5 linked regions of the Homo sapiens genome follow. The protein of the gene in region 2 purifies or fractionates together with the protein of the main gene of each other region. This does not show direct contact. Each region holds a gene or a part of one and is shown on either strand. Other genes may lie near its edges. The genes, in order: RIC3, FAM20B, PLEKHG3, PARP14 and C1GALT1.

What was found.
Region 1: the proteins of FAM20B (region 2) and RIC3 purify together in Homo sapiens (co-immunoprecipitation; one large-scale study listed by IntAct). This does not show direct contact.
Region 3: the proteins of FAM20B (region 2) and PLEKHG3 purify together in Homo sapiens (co-immunoprecipitation; one large-scale study listed by IntAct). This does not show direct contact.
Region 4: the proteins of FAM20B (region 2) and PARP14 purify together in Homo sapiens (co-immunoprecipitation; one large-scale study listed by IntAct). This does not show direct contact.
Region 5: the proteins of FAM20B (region 2) and C1GALT1 purify together in Homo sapiens (co-immunoprecipitation; one large-scale study listed by IntAct). This does not show direct contact.

Annotation. Positions count from the first base shown.
Region 1 is NC_000011.10:8,137,202-8,143,423, reverse strand, and holds part of RIC3 (protein RIC-3 isoform a precursor), read left to right. Parts: intron 1-3,230; coding exon 3,231-3,457; intron 3,458-5,076; coding exon 5,077-5,152; intron 5,153-5,952; coding exon 5,953-6,046; intron 6,047-6,222. UniProt on the Homo sapiens protein: Molecular chaperone which facilitates proper subunit assembly and surface trafficking of alpha-7 (CHRNA7) and alpha-8 (CHRNA8) nicotinic acetylcholine receptors.
Region 2 is NC_000001.11:179,041,587-179,047,808, forward strand, and holds part of FAM20B (glycosaminoglycan xylosylkinase), read left to right. Parts: intron 1-2,128; 5' UTR 2,129-2,261; coding exon 2,262-2,638; intron 2,639-3,186; coding exon of another isoform or gene 3,187-3,255; intron 3,256-6,222. UniProt on the Homo sapiens protein: Responsible for the 2-O-phosphorylation of xylose in the glycosaminoglycan-protein linkage region of proteoglycans thereby regulating the amount of mature GAG chains.
Region 3 is NC_000014.9:64,737,132-64,743,353, reverse strand, and holds part of PLEKHG3 (pleckstrin homology domain-containing family G member 3), read right to left. Parts: intron 5,999-6,222; coding exon 5,979-5,998; intron 4,613-5,978; coding exon 4,499-4,612; intron 2,319-4,498; coding exon 899-2,318; intron 373-898; coding exon 1-372. UniProt on the Homo sapiens protein: Plays a role in controlling cell polarity and cell motility by selectively binding newly polymerized actin and activating RAC1 and CDC42 to enhance local actin polymerization.
Region 4 is NC_000003.12:122,712,617-122,718,838, forward strand, and holds part of PARP14 (protein mono-ADP-ribosyltransferase PARP14), read left to right. Parts: intron 1-648; coding exon of another isoform or gene 649-659; exon of another isoform or gene 660-807; coding exon 808-957; intron 958-1,255; coding exon 1,256-1,318; intron 1,319-1,645; coding exon 1,646-1,813; intron 1,814-5,454; coding exon 5,455-5,661; intron 5,662-5,742; coding exon 5,743-6,222. UniProt on the Homo sapiens protein: ADP-ribosyltransferase that mediates mono-ADP-ribosylation of glutamate residues on target proteins. In contrast to PARP1 and PARP2, it is not able to mediate poly-ADP-ribosylation.
Region 5 is NC_000007.14:7,178,369-7,185,350, reverse strand, and holds the start of C1GALT1 (glycoprotein-N-acetylgalactosamine 3-beta-galactosyltransferase 1), read right to left. Parts: upstream 2,808-6,982; 5' UTR 2,531-2,807; exon of another isoform or gene 1,956-2,530; intron 1,926-1,955; exon of another isoform or gene 1,757-1,925; intron 555-1,756; exon of another isoform or gene 493-554; intron 1-492. UniProt on the Homo sapiens protein: Glycosyltransferase that generates the core 1 O-glycan Gal-beta1-3GalNAc-alpha1-Ser/Thr (T antigen), which is a precursor for many extended O-glycans in glycoproteins.

The sequences.
Region 1 (6,222 bases), on a different chromosome or scaffold from region 2:
AATGGGAGTTCACTCATGATTTGACTCTCTGTTTGTCTGTTATTGGTGTATAAGAATGCTTGTGATTTTTGTACATTGATTTTGTATCCTGAGACTTTGCTGAAGTTGCTTATCAGCTTAAGGAGATTTTGGGCTGAGACAATGGGGTTTTCTAGATATACAGTCATGTCGTCTGCAAACAGAGACAATTTGACTTCCTCTTTTCCTAATTGAATACCCTTTATTTCCTTCTCCTGCCTAATTGCCCTGGCCAGAACTTCCAACACTATGTTGAATAGGAGTGGTGAGAGAGGGCATCCCTGTCTTGTGCCAGTTTTCAAAGGGAATGCTTCCAGTTTTTGCCCATTCAGTATGATATTGGCTATGGGTTTGTCATAGATAGATCTTATTATTTTGAAATACGTCCCATCAATACCTAATTTATTGAGAGTTTTTAGCATGAAGGGTTGTTGAATTTTGTCAAAGGCTTTTTCTGCATCTATTGAGATAATCCTGTGGTTTTTGTCTTTGGCTCTGTTTATATGCTGGATTACATTTATTGATTTGCGTATATTGAACCAGCCTTGCATCCCAGGGATGAAGCCCACTTGATCATGGTGGATAAGCTTTTTGATGTGCTGCTGGATTCGTTTTGCCAGTATTTTATTGAGGATTTTTGCATCAATGTTCATCAAGGATATTGGTCTAAAATTCTCTTTTTTGGTTGTGTCTCTGCCCGGCTTTGGTATCAGAATGATGCTGGCCTCATAAAATGAGTTAGGGAGGATTCCCTCTTTTTCTATTGATTGGAGTAGTTTCAGAAGGAATGGTACCAGTTCCTCCTTGTACCTCTGATAGAATTCGGCTGTGAATCCATCTGGTCCTGGACTCTTTTTGGTTGGTAAACTATTGATTATTGCCACAATTTCAGCTCCTGTTACTGGTCTATTCAGAGATTCAACTTCTTCCTGGTTTAGTCTTGGGAGAGTGTATGTGTTGAGGAATTTATCCATTTCTTCTAGATTTTCTAGTTTTTTTGCGTAGAGGTGTTTGTAGTATTCTCTGATGGTAGTTTGTATTTCTGTGGGATAGGTGGTGATATCCCCTTTATCATTTTTTATTGTGTCTATTTGATTCTTCTCTCTTTTTTTCTTTATTAGTGTTGCTAGCGGTCTATCAATTTTGTTGATCCTTTCAAAAAACCAGCTCCTGGATTCATTAATTTTTTGAAGGGTTTTTTGTGTCTCTATTTCCTTCAGTTCTGCTCTGATTTTAGTTATTTCTTGCCTTCTGCTAGCTTTTGAATGTGTTTGCTCTTGCTTTTCTAGTTCTTTTAATTGTGATGTTAGGGTGTCAATTTTGGATCTTTCCTGCTTTCTCCTGTGGGCATTTAGTGCTATAAATTTCCCTCTACACACTGCTTTGAATGCGTCCCAGAGATTCTGGTATGTTGTGTCTTTGTTCTCGTTGGTTTCAAAGAACATCTTTATTTCTGCCTTCGTTTCGTTATGTATCCAGTAGTCATTCAGGAGCAGGTTGTTCAGTTTCCATGTAGTTGAGCGGTTTTGAGTGAGATTCTTAATCCTGAGTTCTAGTTTGATTGCACTGTGGTCTGAGAGAGTTTGTTATAATCTCTGTTCTTTTACATTTGCTGAGGAGAGCTTTACTTCCAAGTATGTGGTCAATTTTGGAATAGTTGTGGTGTGGTGCTGAAAAAAATGTATATTCTGTTGATTTGGGGTGGAGAGTTCTGTAGGTGTCTATTAGGTCCACTTGGTGCAGAGCTGAGTTCAATTCCTGGGTATCCTTGTTGACTTTCTGTCTCGTTGATCTGTCTAATGTTGACAGTGGGGTGTTAAAGTCTCCCATTATTAATGTGTGGGAGTCTAAGTCTCTTTGTAGGTCACTCAGGACTTGCTTTATGAATCTGGGTGCTCCTGTATTGGGTGCATATATATTTAGGATAGTTAGCTCCTCTTGTTGAATTGATCCTTTACCATTATGTAATGGCCTTCTTTGTCTCTTTTGATCTTGTTGGTTTAAAGTCTGTTTTATCAGAAACTAGGACTGCAACCCCTGCCTTTTTTTATTTTCCATTTGCTTGGTAGATCTTCCTCCATCCTTTTATTTTGAGCCTATGTGTGTCTCTGCACGTGAGATGGGTTTCCTGAATACAGCACACTGTTGGGTCTTGACTTTATCCAATTTGCCAGTCTGTGTATTTTAATTGGAGCATTTAGTCCATTTACATTTAAAGTTAGTATTGTTATGTGTGAATTTGATCCTGTCATTATGATGTTAGCTGGTGATTTTGCTCGTTAGTTGATGCAGTTTCTTCCTAGTCTCGATGGTCTTTACATTTTGGCATGATTTTGCAGCGGCTGGTACCGGTTGTTCCTTTCCATGTTTAGCGCTTCCTTCAGGAGCTCTTTTAGGGCAGGCCTGGTGGTGACAAAATCTCTCAGCATTTGCTTGTCTGTAAAGTATTTTATTTCTCCTTCACTTATGAAGCTTAGTTTGGCTGGATATGAAATTCTGGGTTGAAAATTCTTTTCTTTAAGAATGTTGAATATTGGCCCCCACTCTCTTCTGGCTTGTAGGGTTTCTGCCGAGAGATCCGCTGTTAGTCTGTATTTTCTTATCTGTATTAGTTAGGGGTGGCTAACTGCTGTAACAAATAGATTCCACAGTGTATAATGACCCTAACACAATAGAAGTTGATTTCTCACTCTTACAGACAGGTCCAGATGACTCTAAGTTAGTGAGGTGGCAGCAGTGGAGGGCTCTGCACTACATAATTATTTAGGAATCAGGTTGATGGAGGCTTTGCTGTTTCTACCCGTGGCTTCCAAGGTCCCCGTGGGTGTTAGCATCCATGCTGCAGAAAAGAAATGATCACGGAGTTGAATAACAAGGGAGATTTTATAGACCAGGCCTTGAGCTAGCACAGTCCTAGTCACATTCCTTGGTTGGAACTCAGTTTATATGGCCACATTTAACTGTATGGGAGTCTGAAAAATGTGGTCCAGCTAAGGACCCAGAGGGAAGAGAAAATGGGTTTGGTGAACAGCTAGAGATGATCACATCATATTTAGGATATGTGTGATACCTCTGTATCCTTTTAATTAAGTTGCCATTTTTTTCTTCTACTTGTTTGTGTTGGCCTCTTTTATACCTTAATGATTTGGTGTTTTCATGATAGCCATCTTTAAAATAGTAGAAGAGATAAAAAGTGATTATTATTTTCTCAGGAAAATTGGGCCGATTTCCACCTATGATGCATCATCACCAGGCACCCTCAGATGGCCAGACTCCTGGGGCTCGTTTCCAGAGGTCTCACCTTGCCGAGGCATTTGCAAAGGCCAAAGGATCAGGTGGAGGTGCTGGAGGAGGAGGTAGTGGAAGAGGTCTGATGGGGCAGATTATTCCAATCTACGGTTTTGGGATTTTTTTATATATACTGTACATTCTATTTAAGGTAAGTAGAATCATCCTAATCATATTACATCAATGAAAATCTAATATGGCAATAAAAATCATTGTCTACATTAAAACTTCTTATAGTTCATAAAATTATTTCAAATCCATCATCTCTTTAAATCCTGCCTCCTCTTCATGAGGTACTTAGGATAGCCATTATTTCAGTTTCACATAAGAAATGTTTACTCAATGTTTAAGTGTTTTGCCCCAAAATTCACAACTAACAAGGCAGAACTAGGACTTGAACATGGATCTTTTGGTTCTTAATCCAGTGAGTGATACAATTCAATGCACTCCCCTGCCAAAAAAAAAAAAAAAAAAAAAAAAATTAACATCTTTACAGGCCGAAAAGGAATAAAGATTTTCTAAGAAGAGCTTTTATTATTGGGATTGGCACAGTGATTTCCAAATAGCCATTGTAAGGCCAAATAATGACACCACTTTATCCTGCTTGTTTCTCCACAGGAATTTGAGATGCTGTTTTTAATATTATCTCCAATAATTCTCCTGAGACAGAACTGTCCCTCCTGAAATTAAGCCTGATATTTCCTAGCTCTGGGGAGACATGGGTGTAGGTTCTTTAAAGCAGACCCCCAGTTGAGTTCCACCTCCAGGCAGGCCTTTGCAGGCCCCTGGCCCCTGTACTGTGAATTAGAGGCAGAAGACTCACTTTGCCCTCCTGTCTAGAGTAAGCTTAAATAAGATGAGTTCTTTCTCGCCCAGGAATTCTGCAGGCAGTCTGAGTTGAGTCTGTAAGAATGCCCATAGGGTGCCACACATCCCTTTTAGATGAGCATGAGCAAGGAAGATGACCTGTAGGGAGATTTTTTTTCCCTTGTGTTAGAAATGCTTGTTCTCTGGTGCCATAAAGAAGCAGCACTTGGACGTACATTTAATTTCCTCAGCAAGGCCATTTTTACTTTCTGCAGAAAGGGTACACTCACCAGCGGTTTTGCCGTGAGAGTACACCGAACAAAGGAGACAGGGTCATTTATAACCTGACGCATCCACCTTACTGCTGTGTCCGGTTTCCATTGGCTGGAACGGGACCTCACATTCTGTATTTGTGCTGATTGGCTAGCGACTTAGAACTTTTTAAAAGAGGCAAAGGCAGAGGAGAACAAAGGAAGGAGGAACTAACTTGTGGAATGCTGAGAAAGGTAAAAACACCTTCATATAAGGAAGAGGAACAGGCTATGACCTCATGCTTGCTTTGACAAGTATAAGCATGCCAGGGCAAATATTTAGGCTAAACTGTGGGAGCTAAGAACAGTTGATTTCTTTATTATGGCTAGCAGATATCTAAGCATGTTAGCACAGGTTCTTGAATAAATTTTGCTTCTAAGAGAAGTTACTATTCCTAATTATATGGGGAGTAAAGTCTCTTTGAAGAGGAATCTCTACTTTACTTTTTACACTTGTGCTTTGATAATTTTTTACTTGGAAACCTCATCTTTTGGCGTTTTTTTTTTTGAGCTATTTCTCTAGTGTTGCTATTTGATTTAATTTCTGACCTTCATTTTTGTTTCCCAACCTTTTTTTTTTGTTTGATATGAGGGGTTCCGTGACTGAGGTTCTGAGCTGCTGTTGATGTGCTATACCTCCTTCAATTCTCAGCTCTCAAAGGGGAAAACAACTGCAGAGGATGGGAAATGCTATACTGCCATGCCTGGAAACACCCACAGGAAAATTAGTAAGTGCCCCTTCTCAGTATATTCACAGGTATTATTGAGTCAAACAGTTTTATAGCCACAGGGACAGTCTGTGGGTATGTCTTAAAAGCATTTCTCAAAAGTTGCTCCAAATTAATCTGATGCCATTTTTGCCTTAGTTCTGGGAATTCTCAAAAGTTTTTATATTGATGTACTACAAAAAGTACAAAACCACCAGTTCACTTTTTAATATATTAGCAAATTAATATTTCACGTTTGGAATGACTTCTCATTTTCAGACTTCAAAATATTGGTAGCAGAGAGCAAAATGGAGGCAGAGAAATCATATCATTGCCAAAATCAGTTTTTAGATCTAGGGAAAGAGTTTAACACTTCTGACTGTTGAAACATGGCCATCAGATACTTATTATACAACTAGAATATTCTGTGTTCTCTAGGGAAATTAAATTTATACAACATGGCTCTTTCCTCAAGAATTTATAGACTAGAATGTATGTCAGGAAAAATAACCTATGAAAAATTTACCACCCGCAAGTAAGAGACTTGGCAAAAGCATTGCAGGAAATCATGTTTATCTGGGCTGTAACTGCTTTTTGGATTTACTTCTGGATTTTCTATGGAACTAAATATCCCAGTCACACTTTGCATCCTTTTTGGAAATCTTAAATATTCACAGAATCCTTTAATAAAACTGCGGTGTTCTTCAATGAGATAGTAATGGGAAGTTAGACAGTACAATAGCTTTTTAAAAATTTGTGGTCTCTTTAACAGGTTTAGGGAGTTGTCTCTGATGGTTCTTAGATTGTTGCTTATTTTTTAGCCAGTTTTGAGCTTGCTCAACTGCAAGAAAAACTGAAGGAGACAGAAGCAGCCATGGAAAAATTAATCAACAGAGTGGGACCTAATGGTGAGAGGTAGGTTTTCATGTAACGGGACTCAGACTATTTCTCATTTAGAAAATAAATTCAGGCTGGGTGCAGTGGCCGAGGCCTCTAATCCCAGCACTTTGGGAGGCCGAGGTGGGTGGATCATCTGAGGTCAGGAGTTTGAGACCATCCTGACCAACATGATGAAACCCTGTCTCTACTAA
Region 2 (6,222 bases):
CTTCGGCTCGGCATCAGAGGGAGACCGTGGAAAGAGAGGGAGAGGGAGACCGTGGGGAGACGGGAGACGGGAGATGGGAGACAGGGAGGGAGAGGGAGAGGGAGACGGGAGACGGGGAGGGAGACAGGAGACGGGAGACGGGCCGGGAGAGGGAGACGGGCAGGGAAAGGGGAGAGGGGAGAGGGAAAGGACCCTCTGGCATTTTTAGGAATTGTTGTCTTACCAGAATGAGAACCAAATACTGGTGGTTTGGGATATGCAAAAGTCCTTTATGGATTTTGAAAGTTAAAAAAATGAAAGTTAAACAATTATGTATAGCTTGCTCTTTTGTTTTTGTTGTGTTTTTCCTCATTGTTTTGGTTATTAGGCATGTGTAGCCAACCTCATGGCTCCTAGATGGCTTGCATTCCAATTAAAATAGAAATATTTGCTTTAAAATTTTCAGTGTATGTGGTTCTTGCTTATTAGTGTCACAGGATCCTTGGGGTGTCACTTTGCCAGTGAGAAACCTCTGTGGCCGTGGTGCCTTCTGCCTGAGTAGTGCTTGTGCCCACTGGGCTCGTTCTACCCACTCAGCCTTGCAGGCCGTGCTCAGCTCGTACTACTGGCCTGGATCTTATACCTGCCAAGGGCAAGCCAGGTGCAGAGCAGCAAGGGGTGTGTGGACAAGCTAGCATGGGGTCTGGCCACTGTACACAGCCACGCACGCTGGGGCTGCTGTGGTGGGGTAGGCAGCTCCAAGCATAAGCACAGCTGCCGGTTCTGTGTGAGTCTGCAGCTGGACCAGAGTATCACATGCAGCTTCTGCTGCGGGTGCCCATGTCTGGACAAGGGGAACATGGTGGCATCCAGAAACTTGGAGACACCAGGAACCTCAGAACCCCAAAGAGGATGTCACAGCCCTGGCTCGGGGAGACCCTAGGTCTGAGCTCCACAAAGGGCCCCAGCTCTTCTCTCTTTCTGATTGCCTACCACATGGTGAGCAGGGGGTGTGTTTCAGCCCTGTTTGCATTACAGCTCTTTCAGTCCTGCCATTTGGTGGGTTCTGAGTTCTTGTCCCATGCCCCACGCTGACAACTGGGGGTGAGCAAAGTGGAGAGGAGCTTCACTGAGCAATAGAACAGCTCTCTGGAGACCCAAAGTGGATAGCTCTTTCTGCAGCCATGTTGTTCTGATGAGAGTCTAGCTTTCAGTGGAGAGGAGACCCACAGTGGGTAGATCCCTTGTGCACGCAGGTTGTCCGGATATCTGTTTGAGTCTGGCTGAGTGCAGGGTTTTTATGAGCTCAGAAGAGAGGAAGTGTGTGCTGATTGGCCCATGGGTGGCCATGGGTGGGCCCAGAAAAAGCACCATAAGTTCTCACTGTGGTTTGCGGACTCTTAACCAGAACCGACAGCCCAGCCCCCATGCTTCAGGCCATCCCTGGCTTGAAGGTGGGGCTTCACTGGGGACCCATCCCTTTCCGCCCAGGAGCCTGCCTCCTGCCACCATTCATGTCATCCACAGTGCCCAAGCTGTTTGTACCAAGGGATGCCTGCAGGCCTACACTGAGCCATCCTCAGTCCTCCCTTGGCCTCCCTCCCATGCTCATTGGTGCCCAAAGTCCGGAGTGGGCTGAGACAGCAGGGGCCTGGTGTATCAGCACTGCCCCAACCACATATATACAGGTCACGACATCACCTGGGCTTTGCCACAATTTTGCTCCACCCCAGAGTGGGTGCGGGGAGTGGGGAGAGGCCAGGCAGCAGGAGTGGCATTTTGGAGCCTGTGGGTGTAGCTGTGGCTGGGTGGCTGCAGCTGTACCCAGGAACACGGGGCCCCTGCTCCACCATCTTGGAAGAGGGCAGGGCTCCCACCTGTTCCCAGCTCCTTCCAGCTCCGTGGAGTGTGCAGCCCTGGCCATGCCTCTCCCACTGCAGCTGGTGTCTTCGCAGCAGCTGCTCCAGTTGGGCCACTGCTGCCATCATTAGGTCCTTCTCCAGATTAGTTAATTTTAAATTATTGAACCTTCTTGAGCTCAAGAATAGAAAGCCTAAAAGGGTGAGTCATATATTAGAGGCTTACAAAAGATTCAGGGGTGGAAGGACAGAATTTTTGATCAAATTTTGCTTTGTACTTGGGCTTGCAGGAACTGTGGAAGGTGCATCAGTGAAGAAATGGACCAATGTGTATAATCATGGAATCTCCTTGCTAACCATCACCACCAGCTCTCCTTAATACATGAGCAAGAGTGGGTCAGGGGAGAAGGAAAAGAGGTCAACATGAAGCTAAAGCAGCGAGTCGTGCTGTTAGCAATTCTCCTTGTCATTTTTATCTTCACCAAAGTTTTCCTGATTGACAACTTAGATACATCAGCTGCCAACCGGGAGGACCAGAGGGCCTTTCACCGAATGATGACTGGCTTGCGGGTGGAGCTGGCACCCAAGCTGGACCATACCTTGCAGTCTCCCTGGGAGATTGCAGCCCAGTGGGTGGTTCCCCGGGAAGTGTACCCTGAAGAGACACCAGAGCTGGGGGCAGTCATGCATGCCATGGCCACCAAGAAAATCATTAAAGCTGATGTGGGTTATAAAGGGACACAGCTGAAAGCCTTACTGATACTTGAAGGAGGCCAGAAAGTTGTTTTCAAACCTAAGCGGTAAGTTTTGATCTTGGAAGCTGCATGTGCTAGTTGGTTGATTCATTTAACTTGGGATTTATATAAGATTTATTTTGTCATCTTCTCTTGGAAGTCTCTTCAGTAAAATAAGAGGGGTAGACTAGATCTCTAAAGTCTTTTCTAGCACTTAACATGAATCTACCTTTATAGTATCATATAGAATAGTCTTCCTGCCCTAAAAATCCTCTGTGTTCTACCTACTCATTTTTCCCTCTCTGCCCCAGAACACCTGGTAACCCACTGGTCTTTTTACTATCTCCGTAGTTTTGCCTTTTCCTGAATGTAATATAGTTGCAATCACAGAATGTAAGCCCTTTCAGATTGGCTTCTTTCACTTAGTAAAGTGCATTTAAGGTTTATACATATCTTTTTGTGGCATGATAGTTCATTTGTTTTTATCACTGAATAATATTCCATTGTCTAGATGTACCACAGCTTAATTATCCATTCACTTACTGAAGGACATCTTGGTTGCTTCCAAGTTTGGGGCAATTGTGAATAAAGCTGCTATAAACATCCATGTGCAGGTTTTTGTGTGGACATAAATTTTCAACTCATTTGGATAGATACCAGAAGCATAATTGCTGGACCACATGGTAAGAGTACGTTTCATTTTGTAAAAAACTGCTAAACTATCTTCCAAAGTAGCTGTACCATTTTGTGTTTCTACCAGCAATGCATGAGAATTCCTGTTGCTCCACATCCTCACCAGGGTTTGGCATCAGTGTTTCAGATCATAGCTGTTCTAATAGATCTCTTATTTCTTTCACCTGTTTTAAGTAAAGAATTGGGCCATTTTAGTTACCTTAGTTAACTAAATATGTATGTTGTTCATGATCCCTTTGGACTTCCTAGGGATCTACAGAGATAATTTGTGTGACAATTCTGTGATACAGTTAATTATTTTTATTTATTTATTTATTTCTCTACACAAGACAGCTTGGAGGGTATAGTTAATTTTCTAAAAATGTTTTCTGAGTGTATGAATCTGAATTAGGTTAACATCATGATGGTGATTTGTATTCTTTTGCCGGGAGTTAGTTACCAATGAATATTCTCAAAGTTTGTAATGTCTGAAATCTTTTGGGTACTAAACATTTTTTTCATTCCTCAGTAGAGCTTTTGAAAAAATTATAACATGACTTTAGATTTCTTTCTGGAGTGGGAGAAGAAATGTAGGGAAAAGATGGACAAAATTCAACTCCCTTTCTTACCCAACTATTAGTAAATGAAAGGCAGTCAGAGCATGAATGTATAGGGAGCCCAGAAATGGAAGGGATCACTGTTGGTCTGGAACTGGGAAATATATGTCAGTGATGTGGAAATTAGGAAAGTTAAAACATTTGGTAGACTTTCAGAGAATAAAAATTTGACTGGGGCTGGGCGTGATGGCTCATGCCTGTAATCCCAGCACTTGGGGAGGCCGAGGTGGGTGGATCACTTGAGCCTGGGTGATGTAGTGAGACTCTGTCTCTATAAAAAAATAAAAAATTAGCTGGGCGTGGTGGTGTGCACCTATAGTCTCAGCTACTTGGAAGGCTGAGGTGGGAGGATGGGAAGATTGCTTGAGTGCGAGAGTTTGAGGCCGCAGCAAGCCATGCTCGTGCCACTGCCCTCCAGCCTGGGTGACAGAGTGAGACCTGTCTCAAAAAAAAAAACCAAAAAACAAAAAAAAACCGTGGTTATGTGGGCCTGGGATCTAATTTCTGTAATGCACACTATTTGCCAGGGATTACACTAAGTACTTTTGTATCTCTTAATCCTTTAAACCCTTATACGAAGGTTTAACCTTTTTGGACAATTTCAGTTCTTATTTCCTGAATAAGAAACTGAGGTTCAGAGAGTGTAACTAACTTGACAAGGTCACCTCACATCAATCAGTGGTACAGAAGTTTGAACCCATATTTGTTAGAGTTGTAAACAGCTTGTATTCTGCCACACACATGGAATTCTCTAAGTTTGTTTGCTTCCCATAAGTGATGACGTGGAGCACTCATCATCAAAAATCGCATTTAGCTTTGAAGTTTGGTCTTTGACTTCTTGGCCTGAGAGATAAGCAGCATAAACAGAGTAATGGAAAAAGGCAAACTAAAGACAAAAATAAAATTTGTATATAAAGAGATGGCCGGGCACGGTGGCTCACGCCTGTAATCCCAGCACTTTGGGAGGCCAAGGTGGGCGGATCACTTGACGTCAGGAGTTTGAGACCAGCCTGGCCAACATGGCGAAACCCCATCTCTACTAAAAATACAAAAAATTAGCCGGGCGTTTTGGTATGTGCCTGTAATCCTAGCTACTCAGGAGTCTGAGGCAGGAGAATCACTTGAACCTGGGAGGCGAAGGTTGCGGTGAGCTGAGATTGCACCATTGCACTGCAGCCTGGGCAACAAGAGCAAAACTCCATCTCAAAAACGTAAAATAAAATAAATAAAGAGATGAGTTGTGAGCATTTTGTGTTTAAATAAGAGGAGATCTGGCTGGGTGCGGTGGCTCATGCCTGTAATCCTAGCACTTTGGGAGGCCGAGGCGGGCGGATCACCTGAGGTCAGGAGTTCGAGACCAGCCTGGCTAACATGCTGAAACCCCGTTTCTACTAAAAATACAAAAAATTAGCTAGGCACGTGCCTGTAATCCCAGCTACTCGGAAGGCTGAGGCAGGAGAATCGCTTGAACCCGGAGGCGGAGGTTGTAGTGAGCCGAGATCACGCCATTGCACTCCAGCCTGGGCAACAGGAGCGAAACTCCGTCTCAAAAAAAAAGAGATCCTCATCACACCTACCACTTGTACACTGGAGAATTGAAGGGGAGTTGGGACAGCAGGAAGTGTGTTAGAAGACAGATATTCCCAAGAGCGTGCAGTGTTAGACCAGGTGCTTTGCAGGATAGGCCTGAAATGTTCAGACAAGATATAAGTGGTGGGAGGAGAGGCCAGACTGATGAGTAGGGGAGGTAGTAACAGATAATGCATAACCTTAGTCACTTCTTGCTTCATCTTATATCTCTTACTACCACTGCAGCCTTCTCATTACCTCCCTCCTCCAGACCATCCTGGAAACCACTTCCGTTCTTCCCCGTTCTTCCCCAGAAGACTTATTATCACTATGTTCCCCAGCTTTAAAACATCCAGGGACTTCCCATTGCCCACCAGACAAAACCCAGCCTCCACAGCCTAAGGTCAAGCCCCTGACTGTCTGGTCCTCCTCTCTATACTCAGCCTTATCTTCCTTTTGCTCTTTGTTTCTGTCAAACTCTGGCCCCCTGCTCCCGCATCATCTCCTAAACAGCCTGTGTCCACTCCCAGCAACAGGGCACTCTCTTCTCCAACTCAGCAAGGTTTTTTTTGGCCCCTGCCATAGGTGCTAACTCTCTTAGTCACTGCACATACTGACCTGTGCTGCTTTATATCAGGAAATATCACAGGCTGGGGAAAGTGGTTGTAAGTTTAAGTGCTTGCAGAAATTGACTCCAGTCCCTAAACACCCAGCAAAATGCTGTTCTGACCCCCAGGGCTTCAGAGGCTATTTATTTAGTCCTGGTGTAAGTGCAAATTAATGTCCTTGGTC
Region 3 (6,222 bases), on a different chromosome or scaffold from region 2:
TGGTGCTCAGGCTGCGGCAGCGGCCCACCCTGCCCGACAGAGGTGGCTCTACCATGTTCTCCGGCACCGAGTGGCTCCTGTTGACGGGTGGGCCGCGGGGCCGGCCGCCCCCTGCTCGGCGTGCCTCATCGCGGGAGGCATACTTGGAGCAGAGCTCACGGACGTCGGGCCAGCTGAAGGTCTCTGTGGGGCTGAGGGGGCTCCGGGCGGAGGGCCGGCCCCCAGGCGAGGTGGTCCTCTGGCTGACAGCAGACGGGTTGAAGAAGAAACGCTGTGGTGACATCTCCCCAGCCGAGGAGGGCTTGGGAGGGCTGTGCTCCTGGGCCATCAGCTGCTCATAGTCAAATAGAGACAGCACCGGCTTCCTCTTACCTATGAGGAGAGAGCAAGCTGCCTGAAGCATGGGGCGGGAGGGCAGAGCTGCAAGGGGGTGCTCTGAGCAGGCCCCAACTCACTTTCCAGGCAAGGCTGGTTGTTGGGGTTTTGGGTGTGATGGGAGAAATCTCACTTACCATCCACAGCCTCTTTCATGAAGGGCCATAGGAAGAATGAAGAAAAGGCAGTGGAAAGGGGTCAGGAGTCAAAGGCAGAGGGGGAGAGCTTCTGCTCCCATCCTGCTAAAGGAGGGGCCTGGGGCCATGCTTCCTCCAGAAGCCTCTGCTGGATGGGAAGGGCCAGAGCAGAGGGCATCAAAAGGGCTTAACCAAGAGAGCAAGCTTGGCCTCAGAGCACTGGACTGGCTGCCAGGGCTCACCCTGTGCCCTTAGTGCCCAGGGTCCAGCTTCTCCCTTTGGTAGAGCCTCCTTAGAGGTCACTTTCCCCGAGGAGCCAAGTGGCTCCTTATTGACTCTTCAGTCCCTAGACTTGGGGAAGGGCCCACTTGCCGCTTCTGTCATACCTTTGCCACCTAATGGCTCTCCAGCCTCTTCCTGTAGACAGGGCACAGTGGGGCTCTTCCCATCCCTCTCAGGGGCCACCTTTTCCCACTGCAGTGGTGGCCTGGCCATCACTGGCTTGTTGCTCTTGATCCGGAGGCTGTACTGGCGGGCCAGCTGGTAGACCTTGTTCTTGACGCGCTCGCTCACGTGGCTGTCCATTACGTGGGAGAGCTGCACGATGCGGGGGTGCAGTGGGGCCACCAGCTCCCCCTGGGTACTGCTGCTCAGCTCCTTCACCAGCTCTTTCAGCTCCCGGGCCAGGTGGGCCGGGCTGCGCCCCTCAGTGGGAGAGGAGCTTTCCGGGGAGGCAGTGGCCGACTCCTCTGTGATGGCTCCCAGCTCATGCTCCTCCAGGATGAAGAGTGGCTCATGCAGGTCAAAGCCATTGGCCTGGCCCTGGCCTGGCCCCTTCCCAGGGCTCCCTCCGGAAGACTCCATTCCCTCCCAGATCTTCACAATTTCTGAAGATGGGCGGAACTCAGCATCTGAGATGGGAGGTGGGTCCCCTTTGACTGCCTGGCTTGGTCCTGGGAGCTCAAACAGGGCCCACGAAGTCGGCCGGGAGCCCACCTGTCTCTTGCTCCCCACTGGAGGTACTGGCTCTGGGTCTGGCCGGGGAAGGCTGTTGAACCTGGAGATGGAGTTTCTTACCAGTCCTTTGGGGATGTAGGAGAGGCTCTCCCGGCGACGGACGCTGAAGCCTGCATCATGGTGTTCTGCATTTTCATAATAGCTCTTAATCTTGTCTAGCAACAGCCGGTCTCGGGTGGAGAGTGCTGATTCCTTCTTCTTGCAGGAAGACCGGTCAGGCTCCACTGGGCAGCCTGGGCTTGGGGGCTCCATCCCATTGACAGAAGGGCTGTCCTCTGTGGCCACCCCCACACTGATGTCCACTTCTGGGGAGAGCTGACAGCTGAGGGAGTCTGTGGCACTGCCATGCCGGGCCAGGCCCTTCTCGCTGCCCTCCAGGCTGAGCACGCTGCTGCTCCGGCTGACCAGCCGCGGGCTCCCAAAGCCACTGGACTTGCTGTCCTCCTGTGCCACGCTGCTCCGCCGAGAGAAGCTGCTGACAAATCGCTCCGCAATGACGCTGGCCTGGTCCAGCACAGAGGGTGGCAGAAGGCTCTCAGGCTCCTGGGCGGCACCTCCCATTTCTTCTTCCTCCTCGCTGCTCAGGGCCTTAAGGTCCTCAGTGCTCTCAGCTGCCACGAAGTCCACCATGTCACCTGGGGGGTCCATCCCCAGAAGGCCCTGGTGGGCATCAAGCTGTGTCTCCAGGACTTCTGGAGATTCTGTGTCTGAAGGCGTCTCCTCGGCACTGGGCCCTTCCACAGCAGAAAATACCTCTTGCTCACTCCCAGCCTCAGGGTCCGGCTCAACCTGAAACATAGCAGAAAAGGCTCACATGAGTAAAAAGCCTCCTTCATGGGATCCGGGGAACAAGGGGACAGCATGGCCTGCTCAAGGCCCAATGACAGGGACCTGTAGTTTAGGACTCAAGGCAATCAGAATGAGCACGACTTAGGAGTAGGTGATGGGTCCTTAGAGGAACATGACTGTGTCCTTTAGTCACCGTACAGTGGGGGTGCTGGGCCCATGTCCTCAAAACCAAGGAAAACAGTAAGAATGCAGATGGGTCAGGATGGCAACACCTTGATGGCAGCCAGCCTAGGAGCTACAGGGACAAGGTGGGAACACACAACAGTGGGTTGGGCATGGCCCCAGGTTCCCAGGGGCTGGTTCTCACAGTGTCATGGAACCAGCATGGCTGATGGTGAGGCAGCTCCCCAAAGCCCTAGAGGCTCCTCACTTGGAGGTTCTAGGGTTCAAACCCAGACCTGCACAACATGAGAGGCCATTTCATTTTCCTCAGGGGACAGGGCCTCCCATGTGGATTAGGGTCTAGAGAGCAACACAGCCACATGCTGGAATCTCGTCAGAGGATGAGGACCAGGAATGTGGCTCCTCCCAGTACCTGTGGGCCCAGCACAACTGCATATGCCCAGGAAATGGGCAAGGAAGAAAGCAAACTTGAGAATTCCCTCTTGACCACCTTGAAAGTAATTTGAACCACAGAACTGATGACATACGCGGCTTTCCAGAGCAGTCTTTAAGGAGATAAGAGCAAACACTAATTATAAGATCGGACATAATTCCTTCTGTTCTAGTTCAGAATCTGCAGAGCAAGACCCATGATCTAGACTTGCACTGTTCAACATGGGAGCCACCAGCCACTGTGGCTTTCTGAGCACCCGAAATGGGGTTAGGCCAGATGGAAACCTGCTCTTGGGATAAAATACACACCAGATTGCAAAGACTCTGTATAAAAAAAGGGATAAAACATATCAGTAACTTTTTATGTTGATTACATGTTAGAATAATACTCTGTATACATTGGGTTAAATAAAATATACTACTAAAATTAATTTCATCTGCTTCTTTTAAACTTTGTAATGGGTGGTTCTCATTGTATTATTATTTGACACCCCAATTTGCTCTGCTCTGAATGTCTGTGTATCTCTAAAATTGCCATGTGGAGGCTAACACCCAGTGTGATGGGAATGAGAGGGGGGGCCTTTGGGAAATTAGGTCACAAGGGCTCCATCCTCATGAGTGGGGTCAGATCCCTTACAAATGAGGATCAAGGGAGCTTCCTTGCCCCTTTGCCATGTGAGGACACAGCAAGAAGCCACCATCTACGAAGCAGAGGGCAAGCCCTCCCCAGGGTCTGCTGGCATCTTGACCTTAGAATTTCCAGCCTCCAAAACTGTGAGCAATAACTAAGCTACCCACGTAGCAGTAAGGGATTTTGTTACAGCAGCTCAAGCTAAGACATCATGCTACATTCCTGTCCAGTATCATCCAGGCTTCTCAGTCCTGGCTGTGGGGTCCAACATGGGGTCCAGGCTGTAGCTCACGATCTTTCCCTTATAACTTTGGGAAAGTAAAGGATGCTGCTTCCTACAACCCACAGACAGCATAGGGCAGCAGGAGGAGGAGAGTGGGCCTCTGAGTCCCAGCCCCAGGTCTGATCTCAGCCCCGCGCCTCAGAAGCTGCTCAGTGTTAGGCACGCCATCAACCACTCAGTGCCCTTTTCCTTCTAGAGCCATTGTGGGGAAGAGTAGGAAGAAATAACACATCAGTTACAGAGGAGGTGTCCAACAGATATCAGTTCTCTACCCTTTGCCCAGGTGACCACAGGTGTGATTTCAATGTCTGGCATGCTGGCAGGGACAGGGCCTTATAACCCATACAAGGTGGCCTAACGAAAGGAGCCTAATACCTGGTTCATTTCCACTAGCTGCGTGCCCTTGACATGGGACTGCATCTGCCCAAAGGGGAGCCTTTCTCTACTTCATAGAAAGGGGTGGTCTGCTCACCAAACCATATACTCTAGGCCAAACAGGCTTCATGCAGGGCTGAGAGTCCTGGGAGGTGGGGAATCTCTGTTCCCATGGGCCCAGTGGGAGAGCCTGTGCCTGAAAGCCCTATTTGCAGACTTGAAAATCTGGACTCCAAGTTCTTCCTACTATCCCCATCCCACCTGCTGGTCGCTCACCTCTGGCAGGGAAGAAATGGACTCGAAGCTCATGCGCTTCTCAGTACTGGTTGGAGACCGGCCACTGGGCCTTCTGCTGCTCCTGGAGCTTTCAGACTCCCTGCGCCCCTTTCCCTGCAGAGGTAGAGGTCAGTCATCAACTCCAAGACAACTGGAAGCTGATCCCTTCTGCATCCCAACACGGGCAGTGCCTCCCACGCCCCAAGGGGCTGGGCTGAGCTGAGAGCCAGTCTTGGACCTGAGCCATTCCAGAGCCAACCTGAACTGCCAGGCCTGGGGCTGCGGAAAGCCTTGTCAGGCATGCAGCTTCAAAAAACCTCAGCCCACCTTTCTGTCCCTCCAAAGTGGACTTGACCTTTCCAGCCCCACTGTGTGCTAGCTTCTCCCTGCCCCCACCACCCCACCCCACTTGTCATGCTTGTTGGGCGTTATATTGATTAGTGCCCAGTACTGGAACAGAGCATGCCAGGGGCTCACCAGGGTGTGACAGCGAGCGATGGTGTTAAGTGCTGAGGGGAGGAGTAAAACCAGGGCAGGGTGGGGTGAGGAGGGCAGCAGAGGGGGCCCTCGGGTGGGCATGCACATCCCAGGGAGCATGCAAGGAGGAGGGGAGATCGAAGAGACACCTCACCATAGCGCCCCGGGAGAAAAGTAAAGCGTTGGCCCGATAGTGCCAGCAGTGGAGGGCGGCCAGCAGGGAGCTGGCAAAGTCGGCTACCTGCTCCGCCACCGCCAGGCTCTCCTCCTGCTCCTCCTCCTCCTCCTCTGAGCCTGGGGGCTCCGGCCCAGCCCCCTTCTCGTTGCCTTCATGCCCTGTCAGGTCCTCCAGAGAGACCTGAAAGGCCTGCTCTTCCTCCTCCTCCTCCTCCTCCTCCTCCACCACCTCCTCCTCTTCCTCTTCCTCCTCCTGGGTAGCCCCTTCAGCCTCTGGCTGCAGGCCCCGAGTACGGGAGGGCTGCCCAAAGTCCAGGAGGGTTCCAGCACTGCCTGCATGCTGTTCAGAGCACAAGACCCCCTCGTGACCAGCCTCTTGGGCAACCTCCCGTCCTCCTGCAGGCAGCTGCGGGGGGGGAGCCTTCACACAGAAAGCCACACCTAGATGCCCAACTCAGGTTGCCACTGGGGTCCAGGGAGGGGTGGGCATTCTCATGGTGGAAAGGCTGGGACCTGGTCAAAACTTCAGAACCCAAACAGGCCTGCCTACTTGTCTACCCTAGGGAGAGGGAAATCTGAGTAGGTCCACACTGGGCAGGCCCCCAGCAGGGTGCTGTTCTAGGCAGAGGGTGCAGAAGGGCCCCCAGGGCAAGGCCCATGTCTTATTCATCTCTGTGGCCCTAAGCCACACAGCCTGGTACACAGTGGGTGCTTAGTAGGCATTTGTTGAATGAATGAAGACAATGAGGGCTGAAGGGGCCGGGGGCTGACCTGGGCAGTCCCACCCTCCTCTGTCAGCCAGTCCCCTCCTCCCACTGGCCTTTACCTTCATTCCTGCTGCTCGGGCTGCAGACATCACCACCGGGTCCCCCAGCACACGGGCGAGGGGCAGGGGAGGGGAGGGGAAGAGATCAGTAAGCAGGAAAAAGACCTCTGGACAGCTCCCTGGGGAAGTCCTCACTGGGGGCTCCTGCTCCCAGAACCCTCACCTAGTCTCCTGGGCTTTCAAAAGAATGACTGACAGAGCAGGGGCCCAGGGGCCACAGAGCAGCGCAGGTCTGTGCCTGTTG
Region 4 (6,222 bases), on a different chromosome or scaffold from region 2:
ATCTCAACTCACTGCAGCCTCAACCTCTGGGGGCTCAGGTGATCCTCCTACCTCAGCCTCCCAAGTAGCTGGGACTACAGTTGTGCACCACCATCCCAGCTAATATTTGTATTATTTGTAGAGATGGGGTTTCACCATGTTGTTCAGGCTGATCTCGAACTCCTGGACTCAAGTGATCCACCCACCTCGGCCTCCCAAAGTGCTGGGATTGCAGACATGAGCCATTGTGTCTGGCTGGATTGACAGCTTTTGATTTTCTTTATCCTTAAGGGTTGATCAAATTTTCCTGGTTCTTTATATAACAAGCAATTTTGGAATACAGACTTGACATTTTAAATATTATGTTGTGAGACTAGGGCCACCCTTGGGTCAAAGCTGGGAGAGAAAAGAGGAAAAATTTTAAAACAGAACAAAATGGAAAACTGCCCCACTTAGCAGATTGCTTCTGCAAGTTTTGGCACCTTTCTTCAATCTGTCTGCTGTTATTGTAACTTTTCAGAGCTCTTGGGTGGTGGCTTTTTGTATTTGTCCTGTTTTTAGTTGTAATCAACGGGAGAGATAGGCTATAGTACGCTAACTTCACCTTGGTCAGCACCAGAGTTCATGTTTGATATGGATTCTATGTTCTAATTCTTTTTTCTTAAACAGATCATCACTGAGGCTGAGGAGCAGGGCCAGGTTAAAGACCAGAGGTCACAGAAAGAGAGGGAGAGGGAAGACATCCAAGAGGGTCCCATGTGAGCAGGATACCCAAGTCATTCTTGCTGTGGCTGACTCGGTTATTGACTTTACTTCTTTTCTTTTCAGGTTTTTATGGGACTGTTTCTAGCCCTGATTCAGGTGTGTATGAAATGAAGATTGGCTCCATCATCTTCCAGGTGGCTTCTGGAGATATCACGAAAGAAGAGGCAGATGTGATTGTAAATTCAACATCAAACTCATTCAATCTCAAAGCAGGTACTTGTACAATTTTGATGAGTGCAATAGTTAATGGTAGATGCTATGAAGGAGGGTTTCTATAGCCAAACTGGTTTTTAGAACTTTGGCTTGTTAATTAATAACTTTTAAATTATGCTGACAGGGTTTTCCATAATTAATAATGTTTATTTTATGAAGTTTTCTTCTTTGTCATCAGCAATACCCAATTAGAGGATTCCTCAGATGATGGAGAATGCATTCAGATAATCCTTCTGATCCAAATATACCATAGTGGTTTTTTACTCATGTTTGTTATCATCTTGATTTTCTCATGTAGGGGTCTCCAAAGCAATTTTAGAATGTGCTGGACAAAATGTAGAAAGGGAATGTTCTCAGCAAGGTAAGGCATATTCTATTTTTTGGTCCTAAGTTGTAATTGTATGGGAGGCTGTGGAGAGGCTGAGAAAAGTCTTAGGGTTGGGGAGACAACACTCTAATTTTAAAATGATACATTTTACTAAAGAATTCCAATCACAGACACTTAGAAGTGAAAAGTAATCTCACAGTTAAAAGTAAAGTTAAGTCATAGCATTCCATCAAAGATAGTATTTCAGGAGTTTTTTTTTTTTCACAAAATGCTTACTTGCCAAGTTATACATTTTGCTTTCTAAACAAATGACGGGTTCAACTTCTACTAATTTTGCATCTTTTTGTCTGTGTTTCCCAGCTCAGCAGCGCAAAAATGATTATATAATCACCGGAGGTGGATTTTTGAGGTGCAAGAATATCATTCATGTAATTGGTGGAAATGATGTCAAGAGTTCAGTTTCCTCTGTTTTGCAGGAGTGTGAAAAAAAAAATTACTCATCCATTTGCCTCCCAGCCATTGGGACAGGTTCGTAGCCTCTGGCTGTCAAGGCTAAATCCCAAGCCATCTACTTTCCCTTTCATTTGGAGCTGAGTGTGAATGCGGTCAGTGCTGAGTCTGACCCAGGGCAGCAACCATTAAGCTAGGAGTGGACAGCTTCCTCCCCATAAGACAACTCCCAAGGGAATGACAAAGCCTGTGGATTGTTTGAGTAAAAGAGGGACAAAATGCAGGAGACTGAAGAGAGTGTTAGAATGTTAGAGAGGCAGAAAGAAGGGAAGGGAAAATAAGGAGGAGAAGAGAAGGGAGAGAGTGGAAAGGCCATCCCTCATTCTCTTTCCTCAGTTACTTTCCCTTTTTCCATTCCCTACATATTCTCCATTATGCAGTCCTTAGCTTCCTCCTCTTTCCCCTCTCCATGGAGAATATTAGTACAACAACTTCCACCTCACTCTAGCTGATTCCCAGAGGAATATTACCAGGCTTCAGCTCAACAGTCAGCTGTGTCACTTGGCCTCAGGGCATTTCTGTGTAGAAGCTTCTCAGTCACCAGAACCTAGTGGGTCAGAAACTCAACTCTCCACTTTCCTCTTTTCAGCCTACTTGCTTCTTTGATTTTCTTCTTTTCCTAAAACTAGGTAATGATAGCGTGATTTTTCATATATAAGGATGGCGCTCTGGATTTATCATTAATTAGGTGGTTTTTTTTTTTTAATTATACTGGGGTACATGGGCAGAATGTGCAGTTTTGTTGCACAGGTGTTCTTTGAGCTCTTTAGGAATCCCTGCTTGGTCTCCTTCAGAGAGCTGGTCAGGGGAGGCATGCATTCTTAGGCTTGAAGTCAACGGAGCTGCCTTGTTCCAGTGCGAGAATAGTCAGCATCGGATCTGTCATTCTGTTGCTCGGGAATCTAAGTTTGAATCTCTTATGCTGGCATTCTAGGCTTTCCAAAAGGTTATCCTCAATAAACTTAACCATCCTTGTCAATTTCTGGGCCTTCTTCTAACCCTCTGACCCATATCTGTAATTCTGTACCATTTCTTATAATGTTCCGAGATGGAATTCTATGTCTATTTTACAACTTTTCTATTTCTAAAAGTATAATTTTTGATCCCTTTGTTTTCATTCCCCTTAGAGTATCATCTATTCCTAGCAGATTAGCCAACATTTCTCCTATCTCTCTCTACCAGTCATCTATCTATCTATCTATCTATCTATCTATCTATCTATCTATCTATCTATCTATCTATCGATCTGTCTATCTATCTCTATCATCTCTCTACTGACTTATCTTTTATGGACACCCACCAATGACTCCTCAGTCTCTGTCTCCATCTGTTTTTTTCTCTGAGCTCTAGTCTTGGGTTTCCACCTTCAGTTGATTTGGGCCAAGAAAGCAAGCAGCTTAGGGGTGCCACAGACCTTCCCAAAGGAGTCCCTGGTAGAGTCAAAAGAAGAAACAAAGAAAGAAGGTAGGTTTCGTTTTGTATAAATATGTACACATTTGAGCATTTCTGGACTCAATTCTGGACTCAACAACAAATCCTGTTGTTTCTTCCACTGACCTGGTTGCATTGCTGGTCAGCACAAATAAATCAGGGTTAGTGGGTTATCCTTGCATGTCCTCTTTACCTATCTTTATCACCACCTGAGCTGGTTCTGAGACTGATAGATGTAGAAGCTTTCTCTTTTAGTGGTGTATATGAGTTGAATTAAGACTGTGATCAAGACAGCCTCTGGCAGTTAAAGGAGCCTCCTCTCTGTTCCTTAAAGACACCTGCATAAGAGGAGAGATTAGGTGGTTAGCAATACCTGTGATCACCTCAAGCTCAACGCAGACTCCAAACTCTCATTCCTTGTCATCTCCCCAAACCTGCCCTTCCTCTTATATCCCCAATCACGTGAAAAACATCACTTTCCATCTAGAGTCCTTGACTCTACCCTCTTCGTCACTCCGATCTTCATTAGCTTAGGAATTATTTGATTGAATATTTACTGAGTGCCTGCATCTGCAAGGCACCATGTTTAGGCTCTGGAGATAGAAAGATAACTAAGAAAAGGATCCAGTTCACAAGGAGCACTGAGCCCAGTGTGAGAGACAGGCATGCAAACAAACAACTGCAATGCAACGTGAACCATGATATAGTGAAGGTATGTGTATGGCAAAAGACAGAGAGGGAAAGGTGAAGGACAAACCCAGCTGGTCCCTAGGTACTCCTGACTTTACTTCCAAAATAGCTCCTCAATCCCTATTCTTCATTCTGGCCTCCTCTTTTTGTTCAGCTCTTGTCTTTTGACTAAGCTTTTATTACAGCGTCCTAACTAGACCTGGGCTCCCCGCTCCATGCTTCCTCCATACCCCTCCAGACTTAACTTCCTCAAAACTAGGTCTGTTCTGCATACGTGCCAGGCTGAACATATACCCATTACATAGTTCCATCTGGCATAGCCTTTCCCTCAATTTTCCATATTTCACCTGTTGATCACCTGTTCATCCCCGCATATCACATCATCTGTGTTCTAGCAAGTGCCTAGTGAGTACCTAGCCAGTGATAGGACATAGCAGATGTTTCTTGAAAGTGAATGAATGTAACTGAATGTGTCCATATAAACTCTTCAAAATACCATGGGAAAATTACAGCTTTGCAAAAGAGAATTTCCCTCGTTCTCTGATCATCTGATTTAAAAAGATTTGAACAACCCCCCTTGGTTAATTTTATGTGGGGTTGTCTACATTCCCACAATTGTCAGCATAGCCAAGTCAAAGAAGCCTACTCTTCTTCTGCAATAGTGGTGGGTACCATCAACAACAATTAGCCAGGTGGGCTCTTAGTCTGTCACATCAGCTTGGCCAAGGAACTTTTACATTGCCCATCATGTGACTTTGCCAGCTGTTATTCACATGGGACTGTTCCCCCAGCTGGAAAGGGACTTTTCATGATCTTACCTAGGCTGTTGCTTTCATGGCTTGAGAAGGAGGATATGGAGTATGCTGAAAACAGGAAACGCTCTGCTTCAGGTGGCTACCTTGAATCCTGCTGGTCAGCTAAAATCTCACTGAGTGTGGAGGGAAAGGCTTCTTGGAGGCTTATAGATAACTTGTGTCTGAAAAATTATAGATTATAACAAATAGCCTGTAGCACTGGGTGTCTTACTAAATTTTGCTTAGTTCAAATTAGGTTCCCAGAGATATCTGGGAGAATAAGGATACATACATAAAATCAAGTGATGACTGATCCTAAAAAAGATTTTCATCTTTAAAAAGTATTTTATGTCAACATATATTAGCATCTGCTTTTTATGAAATTTCAAGGACACTAGCGAGCTAAGTAGAAAAGCTACTTGTGCTCTGTAATAGGAGAGGAGGAACACAATGAGCTGGGATCAGTTGAATAGAGTAGATATGATTGTCAGACACCAAAAGTCAGATTTCTGGGTCCTTTGTTCACTGCTAGGCTGTGGGCTTCCTGACATCCTGGAACAAAAACACTTCATTGCATCTAGGACTTCAAAAGTGTTTGCTGATGCTTTGTTAGAAAATTCCACAATGATGAAAGAATTGAGGAGTGGGCATTTATTCTCTGAGCATTGGAAACCCTAATTTATTCCTCAGCCTTCCACTTGGGGCTTTTTTGTCCTTCAGCAATTTTATTATTTGCTTTTCCAGGAAATGCCAAACAACACCCAGATAAGGTTGCTGAAGCCATAATTGATGCCATTGAAGACTTTGTCCAGAAAGGATCAGCCCAGTCTGTGAAAAAAGTTAAAGTTGTTATCTTTCTGCCTCAAGTACTGGATGTGTTTTATGCCAACATGAAGAAAAGAGAAGGGACTCAGCTTTCTTCCCAACAGTCTGTGATGTCTAAACTTGCATGTGAGTTCTTTGTTTTTATGAAATGCATGTTCATAACGTTGATGTCACATGTGAAATACCTAATCTTCCTTTTCTTTTTAGCATTTTTGGGCTTTTCAAAGCAATCTCCCCAAAAAAAGAATCATTTGGTTTTGGAAAAGAAAACAGAATCAGCAACTTTTCGGGTGTGTGGTGAAAATGTCACGTGTGTGGAATATGCTATCTCCTGGCTACAAGACCTGATTGAAAAAGAACAGTGTCCTTACACCAGTGAAGATGAGTGCATCAAAGACTTTGATGAAAAGGAGTATCAGGAGTTGAATGAGCTGCAGAAGAAGTTAAATATTAACATTTCCCTGGACCATAAGAGACCTTTGATTAAGGTTTTGGGAATTAGCAGAGATGTGATGCAGGCTAGAGATGAAATTGAGGCGATGATCAAGAGAGTTCGATTGGCCAAAGAACAGGAATCCCGGGCAGATTGTATCAGTGAGTTTATAGAATGGCAGTATAATGACAATAACACTTCTCATTGTTTTAACAAAATGACCAATCTGAAATTAGAGGATGCAAGGAGAGAAA
Region 5 (6,982 bases), on a different chromosome or scaffold from region 2:
TATGCCAAGCTGTATTTAATTTCAAATTCTGCCTATTATCCAACATCTAGCCGTTTAAATGTGCTTTAATATACAGGTTTCCCATTCCAGAATCTCCCTAATATTGCCTCTCGTTGCCCCCAACACGCCCCTTCAATGTGCAAGGCAGCACATACTACAGGTGCTAGATAATTTATTTAGACTTTCCTTTCAGTTTCCCCCACCTTCTTATGTGCTTCCCTAAATCACAAACACCAGTTTCTTTATATATTTTTTTTCTCCCTCTTCCTATTCTCACATATTACAGATTTTGGCATATATATTCCCCTTGGACATTTGAATTAGCTGCAAAATAATTTAAGTACACATTGGAGTTCCTCTCTAACCAGATTTTAAGATAAAAGGCTAACTTCTCATTTTATGGAACAAGTCTCCTTCCCGCTCCCCACCTTTCTTCTTTTAAAAGAATGACTTAATCCCACTGAATTTGAAGTAAAAAGATTTTTGTCATACCTTTCTTTCAGCCTTGCTATAGTTTGTACATCAGCGTCTTTAATCAAATCTTAAGAAATCTTCTAAAAGAAAAGATGGTTGTATTGGGAAGCTTAAACTTTTAAGCCTATCTGAATTTAATTTCAGCATCAAGCTTTCCATTTTCTACTTAAGGTTTATTTATAGCTGCACTGTCACAAAAATTCCAATCAATGATTTTACCACACAAAGACTCTAAATTACCATGGCTTATAATGTTAAACTGCATAATGCAATTTTAATTTTAGCACAAATCAATACACAAATAGTAGCATGTGCCTAGTGACATACTTTTTCATATTTCTATTAGGTAAACAAGAACTCATTATGTGTACCCTGAAATAAATTTGTGATACAATTTTAAGAATAACTGGATATTGAATTTACTCAACGTAGTCTAGTCTTAAAAAGCATAATTATGAAAAACTTTAAATAGGAAACACAAAATATTTCTAAAATGCTTAATCCTAAGTAGGAAGATACAAAAAAATACACATTCCAGGCAAATTTGAGAGGCATTTAGTAGCTCTCCACTAATACTGAAAAATTATTCTCTTTATGAAGAATTTTAAATGAGTCATACTTTCCTTACTAAGTCATTGTTTCACTTACCATAAGGTGAAGAGTTAACTGTTTGCTAACTTGAAACTTTATATTCACTTAAACTGTACATCTATATATAAAGACTGGTAGAAAGTATAGTGTACTATATACAATATTTAGAACATACAGCATCATGGGCATTAAGCTCAACTGCCATTTACCTAAGAGGGTGAAAAGCTGTCATCTAAATACCTTCTAAAAACTCGGATTCCAACTTCCCAAACTCACACCAGAATGAAGCAACTTGAAATTATGCGCACTTTTTCCTGGCAGAGCTATGTTCTATGCCCAACTTTTAGTAAGTTAACATATTTCTCTCCCTTACACATCGGCCAATTATTCATTGATTCATTATGGTTCTAAATTTATAACTTTTAAATTCATAATGAAATCAATCCATGGTTAGCACAATAGTTTTCTATCTTAAAAAAGCGTTAAAAGGAAATACAGTAGTATGTACAATGGATATAGAGAACTAGGTTAGAAATCTTGAGAATTTTTCCAGGATGTGTGGGTTTTTTGTTGCTGATACTGTTGTTTGCTTTAAATGCGGGGTGGTGGGGGGTGGGGAGACGGTAAGGACCAGGAAAGAATAAATCCACAGCGCTAAATTATGGTCATCTTTTAAGAGTGTACGACTTACCCAAATTCAAAGCAAATGGACAACTTGTCAACACCTACTAATTCCATCACAATTTGTTGGGGAAAAATGGGGTGCAGAAGCAAAAAAAAAAAATTTAATGCCTTTCTTCCTCCTCCATGCCCCGAATGCCCCAACACACACGTATCTGCTTCACTCTGCGGCAGGGAAACTTAAAGAAATAAATCAGCTACAGACAAACCTGATGATCCAAGCTAGACCCAAGCAAGCTCCAGGCACCTCTGGAAGGAGCCCGCTCGCTGGGCGCTCAGGCGGCGCGGCAGCCGAGTGGCTCCCCGGCGAAGGTGCCCAACACCTGGGCGCCCAGTCCGGCGGGACCCACAGGTCTGCGGCGGGGCGGGGAGGGCCCGGGAGGAGGGACTGGGAGGGCCCGGCGGGGCAGGACCGCTAAGTGGTCCGGTCCGGGCGCACTGCGCGCCCCGCCGCGCCGCCAGGCAGCGCGCGAGCAGAAGAGGGGCGCGAGCGGGCACAAGGGAAGGACCCACGACGAAGAGGAGGGTACATGTCCACAAAATTGAGGCCGGGTACGCAGCCGAACGCTGTGGCAGATCGCTAAGGCTCCGGGAGCGGGAAGTCCTCGCGCCTTCCTCAGGAGCCCGGACGACCCCAGCCCGGCTTTGACCCCGAGACACCTGTTCCGCCGCGCCCGGGGTTTGGTTCCATCCTCCACGCTTCCCCACCAACCCGGAGAGGGGGGAGGGCGAGGGGAGACGAGACCTTGGACCCGTAGCCTGAGGGCGCCTCCGCCGGCCATACCTGACATCAGCTGCGGCTCCCTCTCGCCCCTCCTGGGGGGCGGAGAGGGGGACGACTTGGGACTGGTGACCTTTGCTTCTCTGGGCAGCCGCAGAAGTGGCTCGTGGCCGCTAGCCGAGGCCGCCCGCTGCCGCCCAGATTATTCCCCGGCAGCGGCAGCACAGCGGCGGCGGCCAAGGCGGGCCCAGCGCGCGCTCCCGCCCGCTCGCTCCGCCCCTCCCCGCAGCGCGTCCAGGCCGTGGCCCGCCTATGGCGCAGCCGCCACCCGAAGTCTCCTGGCGCTGACGTCTCCGCCGCCGCACCAGCCCCAGGGAAGGGCGGAGCGGGAGGGGCGGTGGGCGGGGATACGGCGACGTGAGGAAGCGGGGATTGGCTGCCGGGTGCACGCTCCGCCCTAATGCGAAGGGGTCTGGGAAGTCGGATCTTGCACGAGCAGTAGATTTTGTTGTATCCCCCTTGCGGCTTGTGTCTGCTACTCTCCGCATTTCTGATCCTGCTGTAAGGTTATGCACTAGCTTCAAGACCTTGAGCGGGACGAAAGCAGGGTAACAATAGGGAGCGAGAAAGGGGATGCTTGAAGGACCTTTGTCTGAGGTACAGGCTCTAACCCTGCAGGACTCTTGTGGCCTGTAGCCTGCTCTTAACCCGTTCATTTGTTTTTCTGTTCTCTCCCCGTGCTCTCTTTACTCAGTATCTCTCTGGGCTTAATAAAAGGAAGTAATAAGATGAAGTATGCATACGGGTGCTGGGTCATCATGTGAGAACCAGGAAGAGCTGAGAACCGAGATAATGATACCAGAAAGCTTTCTATAGGCACATTTCGTCTTTGGTTCTGTCAGCACTTCGGTTCTGTGGGGCAATGGCCGGAAGAGCTTCTTAGGGGCGTAACAAAACCTATCTCCCCTTTCGCTGGGCTCTGAATAAGGAAGTTGTCTTTGGAATAGGGGGAGGAGGCTGCCACCTGTTGAGGCAACCCCACAATAGTCATGAGGTGAGGGTAAGGTTTAGTCTTTACTGGCGTTAACCATTATCTACAAGACCACGTTCCAGAATAGGAAAGCTACCCTGCTTCCTTTAAATGCCCTATCCAAGCGGTTCTTTAGTACTCTACAGCATGGTTGTTAAAGAGTATGGGCTCTGAAATCAGACTGCCCGGGCTGGCATCTTGGTCCCTCCACCTATTGGCAAGTTACTTAGAATGCCTGAGACAAATAATAATATACATTAGTTATTGTTATTTTTCCTTTAATTTGCTTAGGTTCAGCTGTAGTGTAGTTTCTCAGGACATTGCATCAATATATCCAAAAGAATTGTGAAACATAAAGCACATGTAGTGATTCTAATACAGATGTCTCATTTTTCAGATGACAAAACTAAGGCCAGAAAGATAAACTGATAGGTCCATGTTAGAAGAGAAGTGCAGCTATCCTGATGTCCAGGTTATTGCTCTTTCCTTGGCTCATGGGTCCAGACTTCTCTGCCTTACATGATTACGTCCATTCTCTACTCCTCCCCAACTTGTATACAGTTGTTGCTCAGCCTCCTCCCCCTCCACCTTTCCGCAATATCCTTCCACCTTTCCGCAATATCCTTCCACCTTTCCGCAACATCCTTCCACCTTTCCGCAATGTCTTGCCATCCATTGTGAAACATGGAAGGAGAACTCTTTCAGGGGTCAGTGTTCCAAATAGAAACCAAAACTCACAACTCCTTATCTCGTTTTAATTTTATTAAAAGTTATAATTAATAAAGAATAACACTTTTTTCCATTGAGCAAAGATTAGAACCCTTTCCTAAAATAAGGTCAGCCACAGCCTTATCCTGGAAAATTACTTGCTAGAAACAATACTGGACCAAATCAGCCCTGCCCCCACCCTGCCTTTCTTTGAAAATAGCTTTTTTTTTTTTTTGAAGAGATATGGTCTTTCTATGTTGCCCAGGCTGGAATGCAGTGGCTATTCACAGGTGTGATCTTGGCACACAACAGCCTCGAATAACTGGGCTGAAGGCTGAAGCAATCTTCCCGCCTTAGCCTCCCCAGTAGTTGGGATTACAGGCACAGGCTGTGGCACCCAGCTAATAACTATTGTTTTATAAAAACAATACATGCTTATGCAAACAAATTTAAAAAATTTAAACAAAAATGCAAAGAAGTTAAAATCTGTCCAAATACCATAATATAGAGATAACCATTTCTTAAATTTTGTGTTACATTCTTCTAGGCATCTCTCTAAGAATAAAAGCACATATAGACATATAAATACAATATTTCATAAATTGGATCGTATTATCTGCACAGTGAACAACAGTCATGAATAACATCATTTTTAAAAGTTGCATACTGTCTGTTAAATGGATATACCATCATTTATCCAACCAGTATTCTATTGATTGACATTTATGTTTCCAAGTTTTTACTACCATAAAAAAAGTCTCTGATGAACATTCTTATCCATAGGCTTTTGCACAATTGTGCAATTATCTCCTTGAACACATTCCTAGAAGTGACATTAATGTCAGCCAATTCTTCGACATTTTCAATTAGAGAATAAAAATTGTGGTTACTTTGAAAAATATACTTTATATGTGGGACTCAAAACTGACCAGATTCTCCCATTTGAAACATACTTGAAACACACATAAACCTCAGTATTGTTGTTTCTCTTGTGTCTAGTGTTTAATAATGCATGTCAAAACTCGTTGGAGTAGGTCGGTAGACATTACTAGTTGTCTAAACCAAAATCCTTTCTTCTTTACTAGTAGAACTCTGATTTCTTCAGGGTGACAATGTGGCCAGTTAAAAATATTCATGCCCCTAGACTTTCATAAGTCATGGCTGGCCATGTGACCATCAATTAAATAAAAGTGAATTTCTGTAGAGGAGACTCAAGGAAAGCTTTATGGAAGAAATATCGCTTTAGCCATTTGATATGCACCCATCCCTTTTTTTTTTTTTTTTTTGAACCTGAAACAGGGACATGATACTGGAGGTAGAACAGCCATATTTCACCCATAATAACAAAAGCCACACAGACACTATTAATAGTGTAGGACACCAGAGGTGCCTAGGTCCATGGTTGCTTTGGAGGGCCAACTTACCAGGTCTGGACTATCCACTTCTGGATTTGTTGTTAGGTGAGGAAGATTATATCCCTTCTATATAAGATTTTGTTATTGTCTGTTGTAAGTATCAAATGCAATTCTTAGTTGACATAATAAGATAGGCCAAGTCATCATTTATTTAGCACTATATATAGAATTTTTTAATAGACAGAATGAGGTGAAAATGGTGACAGAAAATGCAAACAAGCTAGCAACAACATTAAAACATTGTCTTCTTTAATAGACTTAGTTTCCCTTTAAATACCTACATTTTACAAATATATTAACACCAGTTTATAATAATTAAGTTAAATTTCGTGTATTAAATTTTATTAACTCATATGGTAGTATTAAAATATGTTCACAAATTATTTGATACTTCTTCCTTCAAAGGGTCAAACTTCATTCCCCTCACCTTGAGTTTGGACTGTATTAAATGACTTGTTCTCATGAATAGAATGTAGTGGAAATGATGTAATGTGACTTCTGAGGGGAGACTATAAAACATGCCAGACTTTTTATTCTTTCTCTAGGATTACTTGTTGGGGCCAGGTAGCTGTTATGTCAGAGTCATAAGGTCACTCAGGCAACTTATAAGGAGGCTCACATGGTGAGTAATTAAGGCTTCTAGCCAACAACCGGTGAGGTATTGAGGCCTTCTGACAAGAGCCATGTGAGTGAGCTTGGAAGCAGATCCTCCAACCCTTCAGGCCTTCAAATGATTGCATGCATCATGGTCAACATCTTGACTGTAACCTAGAAAGAGACCCTGAGACAGAACCATTCAGCTAAGGTGCTCCTGAATTCCTAGGCCACAGAAACAGTGAGATACTAAATGTTTAAATGATTGTTGTTTTAAGCCACTAAGTTTTGGGATAGTTTGTTATACAACAATAGGTAACTCATACAGCTGGATATAATAGAGCCTAGCACAATGCCTGGCACACATGCAGGTGTTCAATTATTTGTTGTTTGAATGAATAAATAATTGAATGAAGTATATCTTTTTCACTTTAGTAGGTAGCATACAATGTTAGGATTATCTTTGCTCCCTGACACCTGTATTATCTAAGGGTTTTTTGATCTCTTATAGAGAGATGTAGTGTGAATCTTACTGAGAGCTAAACTTTGCCAGTTGTGGAAGTAACATGGTGAATAGAACAACGGAATCCTTGAAACTTGAATTCTGCCCCCAGTTGTTTTTCCTCAATCAATTTTTTTTAATTTTTTAAAAATTAATGAGTTAACACAAAATTAAACCATGTCTTGAAACCAGACAGCCATCTTGTCTGCCATCTCCAAGCAAATTACAGATTGACTCATAATACAAATTTGCCCAGAGGGCTTGCA